Linked DNA regions of Homo sapiens: regions 1 and 3 are each linked to region 2. The links come from fine-mapping of genetic effects on gene expression. A gene starts in region 2. Each other region holds a variant in brackets. All regions are shown on one strand. Distances are from middle to middle.

Evidence for each region. PIP is the estimated chance that this variant, and not a neighbour inherited with it, causes the effect. A credible set is the group of variants that fine-mapping cannot tell apart.
Region 1: its variant is the best candidate, but not a certain one, in a credible set for the expression of BMERB1 in whole blood (TOPMed, PIP 0.58).
Region 3: its variant is the best candidate, but not a certain one, in a credible set for the expression of BMERB1 in skeletal muscle (GTEx, PIP 0.72).

The regions. Positions count from the first base shown.
Region 1 is chr16:15,283,823-15,288,061 of GRCh38, forward strand. The region is part of intron 2 of LOC105371097 (a long non-coding RNA gene); the gene reads right to left. Among named protein-coding and RNA genes, the nearest start is that of NPIPA5, 92 kb to the right of the region's middle. The variant C/G (reference allele first, on the strand shown) is at 2,244.
Region 2 is chr16:15,432,623-15,436,861 of GRCh38, forward strand. It overlaps BMERB1 (bMERB domain containing 1), which reads left to right and starts at 1,966. Exons shown (of 6, transcript NM_033201.3): 1 at 1,966-2,137. The coding sequence starts at 2,032. All of the region lies in intron 1 of MPV17L-BMERB1 (MPV17L-BMERB1 readthrough), which reads left to right. RefSeq lists an enhancer at 2,270-2,892.
Region 3 is chr16:15,403,191-15,407,429 of GRCh38, forward strand. The region is part of intron 1 of MPV17L-BMERB1 (MPV17L-BMERB1 readthrough); the gene reads left to right. All of the region lies in intron 2 of MPV17L (MPV17 mitochondrial inner membrane protein like), which reads left to right. Among named protein-coding and RNA genes, the nearest start is that of MPV17L-BMERB1, 9.6 kb to the left of the region's middle. The variant T/C (reference allele first, on the strand shown) is at 1,760.

The sequences.
Region 1 (4,239 bases), 150 kb before region 2:
AAGACAGTCAGGTAGAACCAGAAACCACCTCCACCTGCACCCCTGCATAGGACCTAAAAAAATGTCATAGGACCATGACAACTTTTTTGAGACAGGGTCTCAGTCTGCCACCCAGGATGAAGAGCAGTGGTGCAATCATAGCTCACTGCAGCCTCAACCTCCTGGGCTAATGCTATCCTCCCATCTCAGCCTCCCAAGTAGCTGGGGGCATGCACCACATCTGGCTAATTTTTTGACTTTTTTTTTTTTTTTTTTTTGGAGAGATGGGGTCTCACTTCGTTGCCCAGGCCGGTCTCTAACTCCTGGGCTCATCAGGAGTTAGATGATCACCCAGATGAACAACAGGGACCTCATCCCTCCCCAGGGGTCCTGGGGTAGGACCCTCAGCAGATGAGAGGAGTAGCTCTCCTGGCCCATACCCATGCCCTGTTGTGGTGTTTATAAGCCTGTCATAGGTCAGGTTTCTAGAGAGACAAGCTGTGGGATGGAGATCTGGGTGCAGGGGGTTTACTGGGAGGAGCACCTGCTGGAAAGCAAGGAAGCAGCATTGGGCAGAGAGGGGAGTGGCACTGTGGAACAGTCGCCAGGACCCCTGAGACACCCCCTGTGATGGTTAATACTGAGTGTCAACTTAATTGGATTGAAGGATACAAAGTATTGTTTCTGGATGTGTCTGTGAGGGTGTTGCCAAAAAAGATTAATATTTGAGTCAGTGGACTAGGAAAAGCAGACCCACCCTCAATCTGGGTGGGCACCATCTAATCAGCTGCCAGCATAGGTAGAATATAAGCAGGCAGAGCAGCATAGAAGGGCTTGACTGGCTGAGTCTTCCAGCCTTCATCTTTCTCTCGTGCTGGATGCTTCCTGCCCTCGAACGTCGGACTCTGAGTTCTTCAGCTTTGGGACTCTTGGACTTTTGACCACAGACTGAAGGCTGCACTGTTAGCGTCCCTACTTTTGAGGCTTTGGGATTTGGACTGGCTTCCTTGCTCCTCAGCTTGGAGATGGCCTACTGTGAGACCTCACCTGGTGATCGTGTGAGTCAATACTCCTTAATAAACTCCGCTTTTTATATACATCTATCCTATTAGTTCTGTCCCTCTAGAGAACGCTGACTAATACACTCCCATACGGAGGGGCAAGGGACAGAGCCTTTGTAACCCTCCAGGATTATGGGATGCCTAGGAGGGGAGGAGGATTTCCCAGCACTAGGTGGCTTCCTGCAGGTGCCTTCTTGCCAGAGGCAGGACTTTGCTATGAGCTGTTAGCAGCTAGGTCTCCCAGCAGCTGGGGGGACAGAGGGCCTCGGTGGTCCTGCACAGAGGTCTGAGTGGTGCAGCACCCACAGCGAAGCCAGTGACCAAAGTGGAAAGATAAAGATATGAAAATCTTTCAACTAATTAAGATTTAAAACTCAGATTGATGTGAGGATCCTGAATTGACTGTTTACCAAAGAGACTAGGTTTTAAATGAGAAGGGTCTGGGTTTACATTGACTTGGCAAGACTGAGTGTCCTATCACTGGAGTGACAAGGGAGGCTGGTGGGGATGGATCCAGGGAAAAGAAGCAAAGTATGGAACAAAGAAGTTTAGAATAAAGAAAGTGGCCAAGGCTGGGCGCCACGGTTCACACCTGTAATCCCAGGGTGGCCAAGGCAGGAAGATTGCTTGAGCCCAGAAGTTCAAGGCTGCAGTGAGCTATGATCATGCCACTGCACTCCAGCCTGGGTAACAAAGCAAGAAAAAAAAAAAGCAAGAAAGGAAGGGAGGGATGGAGGAAGGAAGGAAGGGAGAGAGGGAAAGAGAGAGAGAAAGAGGAAAGAAAGAAAAAGAAAGAAGAAGGAAAAAAGAAAGAAGAACGAAAGAAAGAAAGGAAGGAAGGAAGGAAGGAAGAAAGAAAGAAAGAAAGAAAGAAAGAAAGAAAGAAAAAAAGACAGAGAGAGACAGAAAGAAAGAAAGAAAGAAAGAAAGAAAGAAAGAAAGAAAGAAAGAAAGAAAGAAAGAAAGAAAGAAAGAGGCATCAAACCTCACAGGTTGAGGTAACTGTAAATACACGGTAGTTTATCCCTGAGCACAAAATCTCAATGGCACAGTCAAAGCCCCAAAGAAGTAAGAAACAAACATCATTTCCACCTTTTGGGCCTGAAGAAGCAGGTACATTAGAGAAGGGCAGCCACAATATCTGTGAACAGTCATTAAGCTCTCAGACACAGCATCCCACCTTCACCAATCTGATCTCCTTGA[C/G]GGGGGTGATGCTCCCTCCAAGATAACAAAGAAAACCTGGCCAGGCACAGTGGCCCACGTCTGTAATCCCAGCATTTTGGAAGGCTGAGGCAGGAGGATTGCTAGAGCCCAGGAGTTCAAGACCAGCCTGGGCAACATAGTGAGACCCCTGTCTCTTAATAAAATAAGAAAAAAGAAAAGGAAACCTTCCCTTTACATGAAGGCATCATACCTTAAATGCACATCCCATCTGCCCAGGAGGCTCACCTCTAGATTTGTATCCTACTGATGAACACACACCAAGATGGACATACTAGCATAAATTGTGGAGAATGACAGAAAATATCCTGAATGTCCACCATGAGGGAACTGATTAATTTATACACATCCGTATACTGGAATACTACACAGCTGATAAAAAGAATAAGGAATGTCTATATGGACTGCTATGCAAAAACCTCAAAGATATATTGTTGAATGAAGTCAAGATGCAGTGTAATATGTACAATGGGCTATCATTTATAAAACCGGGAGGAGACATATATACATATGTTTTTCTATATAAAGATTGTATCTCTGGAAAGTTTCAAGAGAAGCCAGCAACACTTTTGACCTTGGAGAAGAAGAACTGGTGGTTGGGATGGAAAACAAACTTAATTTTCACTGTATACTTTTTCTGGTACTGTTTAATTTTTTTTTTTTACCATATGCACACGTTTCCTATTCAAAAGAGAATTTTTTTGAATAGGAAACAATGAAAAATCTTATAGGCATACAAACTAAATTAATTAGCCATCCCTATAGCTTCAACATGCATTTCAATTTGCAAGCACCCTGGCCTCCAAGATTGATTGATTGGCTGTAAATTGAGAACCTCAGCAATTTCCTTTCACAGGGACAGATGTTGACATTATTCCTGTGATTTTTCACAGATGTTTCCCTTCCAGCATCTTTAAAATCGAGTTTTCTGTCAATTTGGAAATCCCAAATTTCTCATATCAAATCGAGATGACAGGAAAATCAAAACCGTTATCACATTTTGAAAGAGTTTATGGATGGCAAATGACACTGGGAAGGGAGATGTTTAAGGAGCAGCCGACGTCTCTTAACCCTTTCTCATCACTTCCTGCCTCAGTTTACCTAAGCCAGCAAAAGGGGAAATTTGATTCAATATACAGACAAGGGCTTTAGAGTCTGCGTAGCGGTGCGATCTCACTTTGGCTCCAACTCTCTAGCTGTGATACTTTGAACCAGTTCATTAACTTGCCCAGCCTCCTCTCTCTCATCTGTAAAATGGGGATAATATCCCCAGCCTTGCAGTGTGATTTTACAATTCACTGATGCAAAAATGGAAAATGCGTGGCACTTAGCACCACCTAAATGTTTTTTCCTTTTTTTTTCCCTTTCCCTCCTCCTTCACCAATCCTCCAAGCAGCTTTTCTTCCTTCTTCATGTCCCCATTTTGCTCACGAGATTCCAAGATTTACCCACTGAAGCTCTCATGAGATTCCCAGATTTACCCATTGTTGAGAAATCAGAAACATCCCCCACCCCCTAGAATTCTCCTGACCTGTGTCCCCTCCCCTTAGGACTCTGCTCTCCCTCAGTGACAACAGGCAGGAATATGATCTACTCATACAAACCAAACCTCTGCTGTTTGTACATCTTAGCTAATAATGCCCAACACACAGCCAACATTTACTAAGTCAGGCTCTTGAGAGCCACTTCATCTGCATGACGCCACAAAATCCTCTCAGCAACAAAAAGGCACTGTTATTATTTCTGTTTTAGAGATGTGGAAATGAGCACCAGAAGTAGATGTAACTTGACAAATATCTGGGTGGTAGATCTGGAAATCAAAGAACCCTGAACCCCAACCACAGACACATCTTCAGTTCAGGCTGGGTCTCTACGCTTTGTTATTTTTAACGGGGCATTACGCTCCCTGGATGGCTATGATGCTGCAGTTAACTCTGCTCTTGTGGATGAATGCAATTATCTGGGGAGCTCGCACTTA
Region 2 (4,239 bases):
TCAATGAAAAAATAGACCAATTATGGTTCATTCATGTAGAATACTATACAGTAGACTATGAACCAGAGTTACATGAATCAGAATTCGTATTTCTCAAAAGCATAATGTGGGCCGGGCACGGTGGCTCACGCCTGTAATCCTAGCACTTTGGCAGGCTGAGGCAGGTGGATCACTTGAGCCCAGGAATTCAAGACCAGCCTGAGCAACACAGTGAAAACCTGTCTCTATCTTTTTAAAAGGAAGAAAAGCATATTGTGGAACAACAACAGAAAAAAGCAACTTGCAGAATTATAAAGTATGATATCATTTGTATAAATTATAAGAAAATGTTAAATAGCGCTATTATATATAATTTGTAGAGTTATACATATATACCTGAGAACAATAAACATTACATTCATGCAGCCAGGCACAGTGGCTCATTCCTGTAGTCTCAGCACTTTGGGAGACCAAGGCGGGCAGATCACTTGAGCTCAGGAGTTCGAGACCAGCCTGGCCAACATGGTGAAACCACATCTCCATTAAAAATACAAAAAATTAGCTGGGCATGGTGGCACGCCTGTAGTCGCAGCTACTCAGGAGCTTGAACCCAGGAGGTGGAGGTTTCAGTGAGCCGAGACTATGCCACTGCACTCCAGCCTGGGTGACAGAGAGAAAAAAACAGTTGTACCAATTTATACTCCCACTAGCATTAGATAAAAGTTCAAATTATGCCAGGCATGGTGTCTCACATCTGTAACCCCAGCATTTTTGGACTCTGTCTCAAAAAAAAAATCCACATCTTTTACAACACATGATTGTTAGATTTTTTAGTTTTTGCCTATCGGATGATATATTCTTATTTACATTTTCATTTTCCTTATTACTAAGGGGGTTGAGCAGCTTCTCACATTAGGCCTTCCTCCTCTGCCCACATGACATGACTATTCATATTCTTTCCCTGTTTCCTACTGGGATATCATTTTCTTTTTTTCGTTTCTTTTCTTTTTTTGAGACGGAGTTTTCCTCTTGTTGCCCAGGCTGGAGTGCAATGGCATGATCTCGGATGACTGAAACCTCTGCCTCCCAGGTTCAAGCGATTCTCCTGCCTCAGCCTCCCGAGTAGCTGGAATTACAGGCCTGCGCCATCACAGCTGGCTAATTTTTGTATTTTCAGTAAAGATGGGGTTTCACCATGTTGGCCAGGCTAGTCTCAAACTCCTGGCCTCAAGTGATCCACCCACCTCGGCCTCCCAAAGTGCTGGGATTACAGGCATGAGCCATCGTGCCCAGGCACTGCCATGGTGTTTTTTGTTTGTTTGTTTGTTTGTTTTTAAAGATAAACCTCTGGGGTTTCTGGAAAGTAAAGCCCCATGCTCCAAACAGCTCTGCTATACCTGTGTGCAAAATATTTTCATCTCTCTCTCTCTCTCCCCAAAGTGCATGCAAACACATATGGAACTGACATAGGCATCCACTGTCGCACTTCAAATTAAACAGACGCACACGACAGATATTCTCACAGAAAAGCAGTCAGCCAAGCCCAGAACCCATAGATCTAGGTCCACACTCACGCCTCTGCATGCTCCCCAGAAAGACGGATGCATCGCCCGCAGGTAGAGACGGGCTCACCAATCCCACTCAAAACCCGCTGCCGGCTTACAGCTCGCAAGCCGCCCACAGTGCCAGCCCCATGCCAAGCATCACTAGGGGCTCTAGAATAGGCAGGGGCCTTGTTCTCACTTCCTTTGTGTTGCTTTTATTTTAGTTGTTTTGTTTGTTGTTTTTCTTAGAGTTATCACCTGCCCCTCTGTCTCCCTACCCAGCCCCCAAGCCTCCCCTCCAAGCCTCCACTGCGCATGTGCCGTGCATCCCTGCCCCTTCTGGGTACCCGTAGGCGCTCCCGGGCGCTGGCGGCGGCGGAGGAGAGGGAGCAGCGTCACGGGCGCCCGGCCCGTTAAAACGCTGCTGGCTGGAGCCACCTCCCTCCCTGCAGCCCGCAACGGGAATGGAGTAAAGGGAGACCCGTCGACCTGGCCACGGGGATCAGCGATGGAATTAAAGCAATCTTTGTCCACCCATCTGGAAGCCGAGAAGCCTCTGAGGCGCTATGGGGCGGTGGAGGAGACGGCTTGGAAAACGGAGAGACTGGGGAGAAGTGAGTACTGGGGCGGGGGGCGGGGGGCCGGGGACAGCTGGGGATCCATGCGCCTGCGCGGGTGGTCGCGGGAGCGCGAGGAACGCCAGCAGTGGACCCAGGGAAGCGCCCCCGCAGCGGGGCTGGCAGCTCAGGGGGATACGCAGCTCTGCGCAGCGACGCGCTCTCCCCGCGAACAAAAGGGGGGGACCCTCCGGGCTGAGCCTCACTGGGAGGGTTGGGAGATGGCCAGGCAGCTAAGGCAGGAGCCTGGGCTCGACTTAGGAGTCCCGGATCCGTCAGCTCGCAGCTGGTCCTGTGAAGTCGGGTCTCTCCCACAGCCCAGGGAGGAGGATCCTCTCTCCGCCTGGGATGCGCCAGGGCGCTGGAGACGCGGGACCGTCCTGGAAAGCGCCCACGTCCCTGGAGAGGGGGGAGTGTCTGCTGGTTTTCCGCTTGCTTTCCTACCCCCTGCGTGAGGTTTCGGAGCGCACCTGAAATTCCCAGCTTTTCCTCCCTCGCCTTCCTTGGGTCGGGGTGGGAGGCTTGGGGCGGCAAAAGGGTCAAAAGGCACACACCGTTCTCTTTTCTCTCTTGACTCAGTTAAAGTCTGCTTGGGCACAACTCTAGAAGGCAGTTTCGAAATAGACCGGCTGTATTTATTTACTGGTTCTCTCTGCGGTGTTTGGATGTCAACATTTCTAAGTAAACGAAGGATTTTGTTTTTCATTAATAGGATACAATAGTTGAAACTCCTGCCCTCAAAGTGTAGAGGCAGCGTCAGGGGCTCCAGGGTCACTGGAGGTCCCTGCAAACCCGGGGGCTCCCCAAAGCCGCTGCTCTCACATGGCTTGCCCACCAGGCTGGGAAGGAGAGGTCCTTCTCAGGGACCCGGCAGCTTCCTGCCTCGGCTCTGGGTCACTGCTCCGCGCTCTGCCCCAGCACGGATCTCTGAGCGATGTAGGGCTAAAGTATTGTGAATGTGATCTTATTCTGTCCTCACCTGGTGGAAAATTGTGTGTGCGCGCTTTCTTTCTCTATACCTGTAATTATGGATTTAGAAAATCTTCCTAGAAGGGCTCAACTGTGTTCTGATTCTGACGGGTTGAAGTTGAAATCACAATCCAATGTCTTAGTGGTTCATGGGCTAGGATGGATGTCATAGCACTGCCAACCTCTTTCCTTTTCTTTTTTTTTCTCCCTTTTTAACCTTGGTCTTTCTTTCTAGTTCATCCTTTCAAGACCCAATGACTTGGTGCTTTGGCATAATATCAGGGCGTCAGGGCTGAGGGTCTCTGTTTCTTTCTTTAATTTTTAAGTGCACATAGTGGGTGTCCATATTTATGGAATACATGAGATATTTTGATACAGGCATACAATGTGTAATAATCACATCAGGGTAAACGGGGTATCCAAAACCTCAAGCATTTATCCTTTTTTTTGTGTTACAAACAATCCAATTACACTCCTTTTTTAAAAAAGCCCAGCTGTGTGACTAATTATACTCTTTTAGTTTAGCTTTTTTTTTTTTTTTTTTGAGACGGAGTTTCGCTCTTGTTGCCCAGACTGGAGTGCAATGACACAATCTCGGCTCACTGCGACCTCCACTTCCTGGGTTCAAGCGATTCTCCTGCCTCAGCCTCCAGAGTAGCTGAGATTACAGGTGCTCGCCACCATGCCTGGCTAACTTTTGTATTTTTAGTAGAGATGGGGTTTCACCATGTTGGGCAGGCTGGTCCCGAACTCCTGACCTCAGGTGATCGGCCTGCCCTGGCCTCCCAAAGTGCCGGGATTACAGGTGTGAGGCACCCCACCTGCCCTCTTTTAGTTATTTTTAAATGTACAATAAATTGTTGACTGTAGTCATCGTGTTGTGCTATCAGATACTAGATCTTATTCATTCTATCTACCTATATTTTTGTACCCATTAACCATCTCTGTGTCCCCCCATCCCAATACCCTCCCCAGCCTCTGGTAACCATCATTCTACTCTGTATCTCCATGAGGGTCTCTTGTTTCTTACAAGCTCAAAATAATCTCAACAATGGCTGCCTTTTATTGCTAGATGACCATGTGCTGAGAACTCTAAATGCATCATTTCATTTAGTCCCCTCAACAACCTC
Region 3 (4,239 bases), 29 kb before region 2:
AACCGTGTCTCCACTAAAAATACAACAAATTAGCAGGGCATGGTGGCACAAGCCTGTAGTCCCAGCTACTTGGGAGGCTGAGGCAGGAGAATCACTTGAACCCGGGAGGCAGAGACTGTAGTGAGCTGAGATTGCGCCACTGCACTCCAGCCTGGGCGACAGAGCGAGACTCCGTCTCAAAAAAAAAAAAAAAAAAAAGAGCAAGAAGTAGGCAGCTCACACCTGTAATCCCAGCACTTTGGGAGGCTAAGGCAGGAGGATCACTAGAGCCCAGGAGTTTGAGACCAGCCTGCGCAACCATAGTGAGACCCCATCGCTACAAAAATAAAATAAATTAGCTGGGCATAGTTGCAAGTGTCTGTGGTCCCAGCTGCTCGGGAGGCTGAGATGGGAGGATTGCAAGCCTGGGAGGTCGAGGCTGCAGTAAGCTGTGATTGCACCGCTGCACACCAGCCTGAGTGACAGAGTGAGACCATGGTTCAAAAAAAAAAAAAAAGAGAGCAGGAAGTAGAATTGGGAAAGAAGCTTCAGGCAGGGATTTGTAAATGAACAAAACCACAGGAACATTTGCATACTGTTTAAAAAAAAAAACTGGTTACAATGAGTGAGTCTCATCTACCCTCAGGAGAAGAAAGAGGGCAAACCAGTAGTCTGAAGCCCAGCCCATCTGGAGATTTTTTGGGAAGATTTCCTTTAAAGAGGCAGGATGGCTCACGCCTGTAATCACAGCACTTTGGTAGGCCAAGGCAGGCGGATCATGAGGTCAAGGGATCGAGCCCATCCTCGCCAACTTGATGAAATCCCCTCTCTACTAAAAATACAAAAATTAGCATGAGCCCAGGAGGTCGAGACTGCAGTAAGCTACGATTGTGCCACTGCACTCCAGCCTGGGTAACACAGTGAGACCCTGTCTCAAAATAAAAAAATAAAATAAAATAAAGATCTGAAGTTATGCACATACTGGGGGACAGGTCATTCCAGGGGCAGAAGAGCTGAGTACAGTTGACAATGCGTAAAGCACCATGGTATGCCTGGAGGGGAGAAACCACAGGCAGTTTGGTGTTCACAGAGTATTTGTTGAGCAACTTGGAATGAGTTTGGATCCTGGAGACTGTTGAACACCCAGAGCTGAGGATCTTGAACTTCACAGTTAGGTAATGGCAGCAAAGGAAACCAAAGTGGGTGGTTATCGTGACCAAGTTCACATAAGAAATAAGGAAGCATATCAGGTGTGGTGGCTCACGCCTGTAATCCTAACACTTTGGGAGGCTGAAGCAGGAGGATCCCTTGAAGTTAGGAGTTCAAGACCAGCTTGGGCAACATAGCAAGACCCTGTCTGTATTTAAAAAAATAAACATGGTGGCTCACGCCTGTAATCTCACCACTTTGGGAGGCCAAGGCGAGCAGATCATATGAGGTCAGGAGTTCGAGACCAGCCTGACCAACATGGTGAAACCCTGTCTCTACTAAAAATACAAAAAATTAGCCAGGTATGGTGGTGAGTGCCTGTAATCCCAGCTACTCGGGAGGCTGAGGCAGGAGAATCACTTGAACCCGGGAGACGGAGATTGTAGTGAGCTGAGATTGCACCACTGCACTCCAGCCTGGGTGACAGAGCAAGACTCCATCTCAAAACAAACAAACAAACAAAAAAGAAATGAGGTGAGTTCAGCTTGGGAAATGTTGAATGTCAGATGCCTTTGGCCTATTCAGAGGGAGATTGCCGAAGCACAGAGGAGAGTTCATGGCAGGGTTTAAT[T/C]ATTTTTAGCGCTCACATGTCCCAGATTCGGCCAGTGGGAGTTCCCCCAAGCTGGTTCCTGTGTCCTGTGCATCACCCATCTTCTTTCTCCTTTACTTCTTTCTTAAGCCACTTCCTTTCTGGCATGACAGCGTGTTCCAGGATCATCTTGTACTTGCACCTGCCCTGCCCTGGCCCTAGAATCAGCCAATTCTTTGAGGCATCCTGCTTCCTTTTAGTGGGGGAATGATTTGAGAACAAAATATACTACTACATGATACTACATTCTGACAAGAAAAAAAACACAGCCATAAGAAATAAAGCCATGGCCAGGCACAGTGGCTCCTGTAATCCTAACCCTTTGGGTGGCGGAGGTTGGAGGATTGTTTGGGGTCAGGAATTCAAGACCAACCTGGCCCGCATAGTGAGGCCTCGTCTGTATTAAGAAAAAAAAAAAAAAGAAAGAAGGAAAGCCATGTTTGGATAAGTTTAGTCTTCTGATTATTTTTGCTAAAGTTTTAATTTTTTTTTTTTTTTTGAGACAGAGTCTCGTTCTGTTGCCCAGGCTGGAGTGCAATGGTGCAGTCTCAGCTCACTGCAACCTCTGCCTCCCGAATTCAAGCGACTCTCCTGCCTCAGCCTCTTGAGTAGCTGAGATTACAGGTTCCTGCAATCACGTCCTGCTAATTTTTATTTTTAGTAGACACAGGGTTTCTACATGTTGGTCAGGCTGGTCTCAAACTCACGACTTCAGGTGATCTGCCTGCCTTGGCCTCCCAAAGTGCAGGGATTACAGGGGTATATTTTATATTTAAAGCATATTTAACAATTAAGGGCCAGGCTCGGTGTCTCACGCCTGTAATCCCAGCACTTTGGGAGGCTGAGGTGGGCAGATCACCTGAGCTCGGGAATTTGAGATGCACAACAAGAGCGAAACTCCGTCTCAAAAAAAATAAATAAATATAAAATATACATTATGGCCGGGCATGGTGGCTCACGCCTGTAATCCCAGCACGTTGGGAGGCCAAGGCGGGCAGATCACCTGAGGTCAGGAGTTCGAGACCAGCCTGGCCAATATCATGAAACCTTGTCTCTACTAAAAATACAAAATTTAGCCAGGCATGGTCGTGTGCACCTGTAATCCCAGCTACTCGGAGGCTGAGGCAGGAGAATCACTTGAACCCAGGAGGTGGAGGTTGCAGTGAGCCAAGATCGCACCATTGCACTCCAGCCTGGGCAACAAGAGCAAAACTCCATCTCAAAAAATATATATATATACATACACATATACGTATATATGTGTATATATACGTATATATGTATATGTATACACACATTATATGTAATATCTACTTTTAAATATAAACATAAATATTATAAAGCTTTTATTGCAATTGTTCATTTTAGAAACTTCAGAAAATACAAATTAGTAAAAAGAAGAAAATAAGTCTGTAATACCACTTTTAAGGACTATTTTGAAAACCTCTAGCTGTTTTTTGAGATAAATTTACATACCAAGACTTTTTTTTAAAAAATCATAATGATGACTTTTTCATAGGACTGTGTAGGATAAAGCTTGTGAAATGTCTATCTAACATATTTTGTAATATATGAAAATTTCAGCTAAACTTGTTCTATAGCATCACATGGTTTCAATATATTATTAGAAAATCATTCCATAAACAATGGTTTGGTATATAGTTTCAACAATTCAAGGCTGGGCACAGTGGCTCATGCCTGTAATCCTACCACTTTGGGAGGCCGAGGCAGGCAAATCACCTGAGGTCAGGAGTTCAAGACCAGCCTGGCCAACATGGTAAAACCCTGTCTCTACTAAAAATACAAAAATTAGCCGAGCATGGTGTCAGGCACCTGTGATCCCAGCTACTCAGGAAGCTGAGGCAGGAGAACTGCTTGAACCTAGGAGGCAGATGTTGCAGTGAGCCAAGATCTTGCCACTGCACTCCAGACTAAGCGACAGAATGAGATTCCATCTCAAACAAAATAAATAAATAAAATAATTCAGCAGGATGAGGTGGCTCATGCCTATAACCCCAGCACTTTGGGAGGCTGCAGTGGGACTACTGCTTTTGCCTGGGAGTTCAAGACCAGCCTGGGCAACATAGAGATACCATGTCTCAGAAAAAAAAAAATTAATTTAAAAAAAAAGAATTCATTGATGATTCTGTATTTACAAATATATTCCTGCATCATTTGTTCATGGTAACCAGGAAATTGCAATGCATATATACATGCTGTCATTTCCAAAGCCGCTGTCTTCCAGAATTGGTACTGATTCTAGTAGACTTTTCATTCTGGTGTTAAAAATATAATTAATATAGGAATGTCTTCTACCTAATAGCTTTTTTCCCCACAACTCCCCAACCCCCTCACTCTAGAGGCCTTAAGTAGTCTAAGTTAATCAGCTTAGTCTGAAATATAATACTACCTAGGCATCTTGTTGGCCTAGTATTTCTTACTCTTTTATGGAATGAACTGTG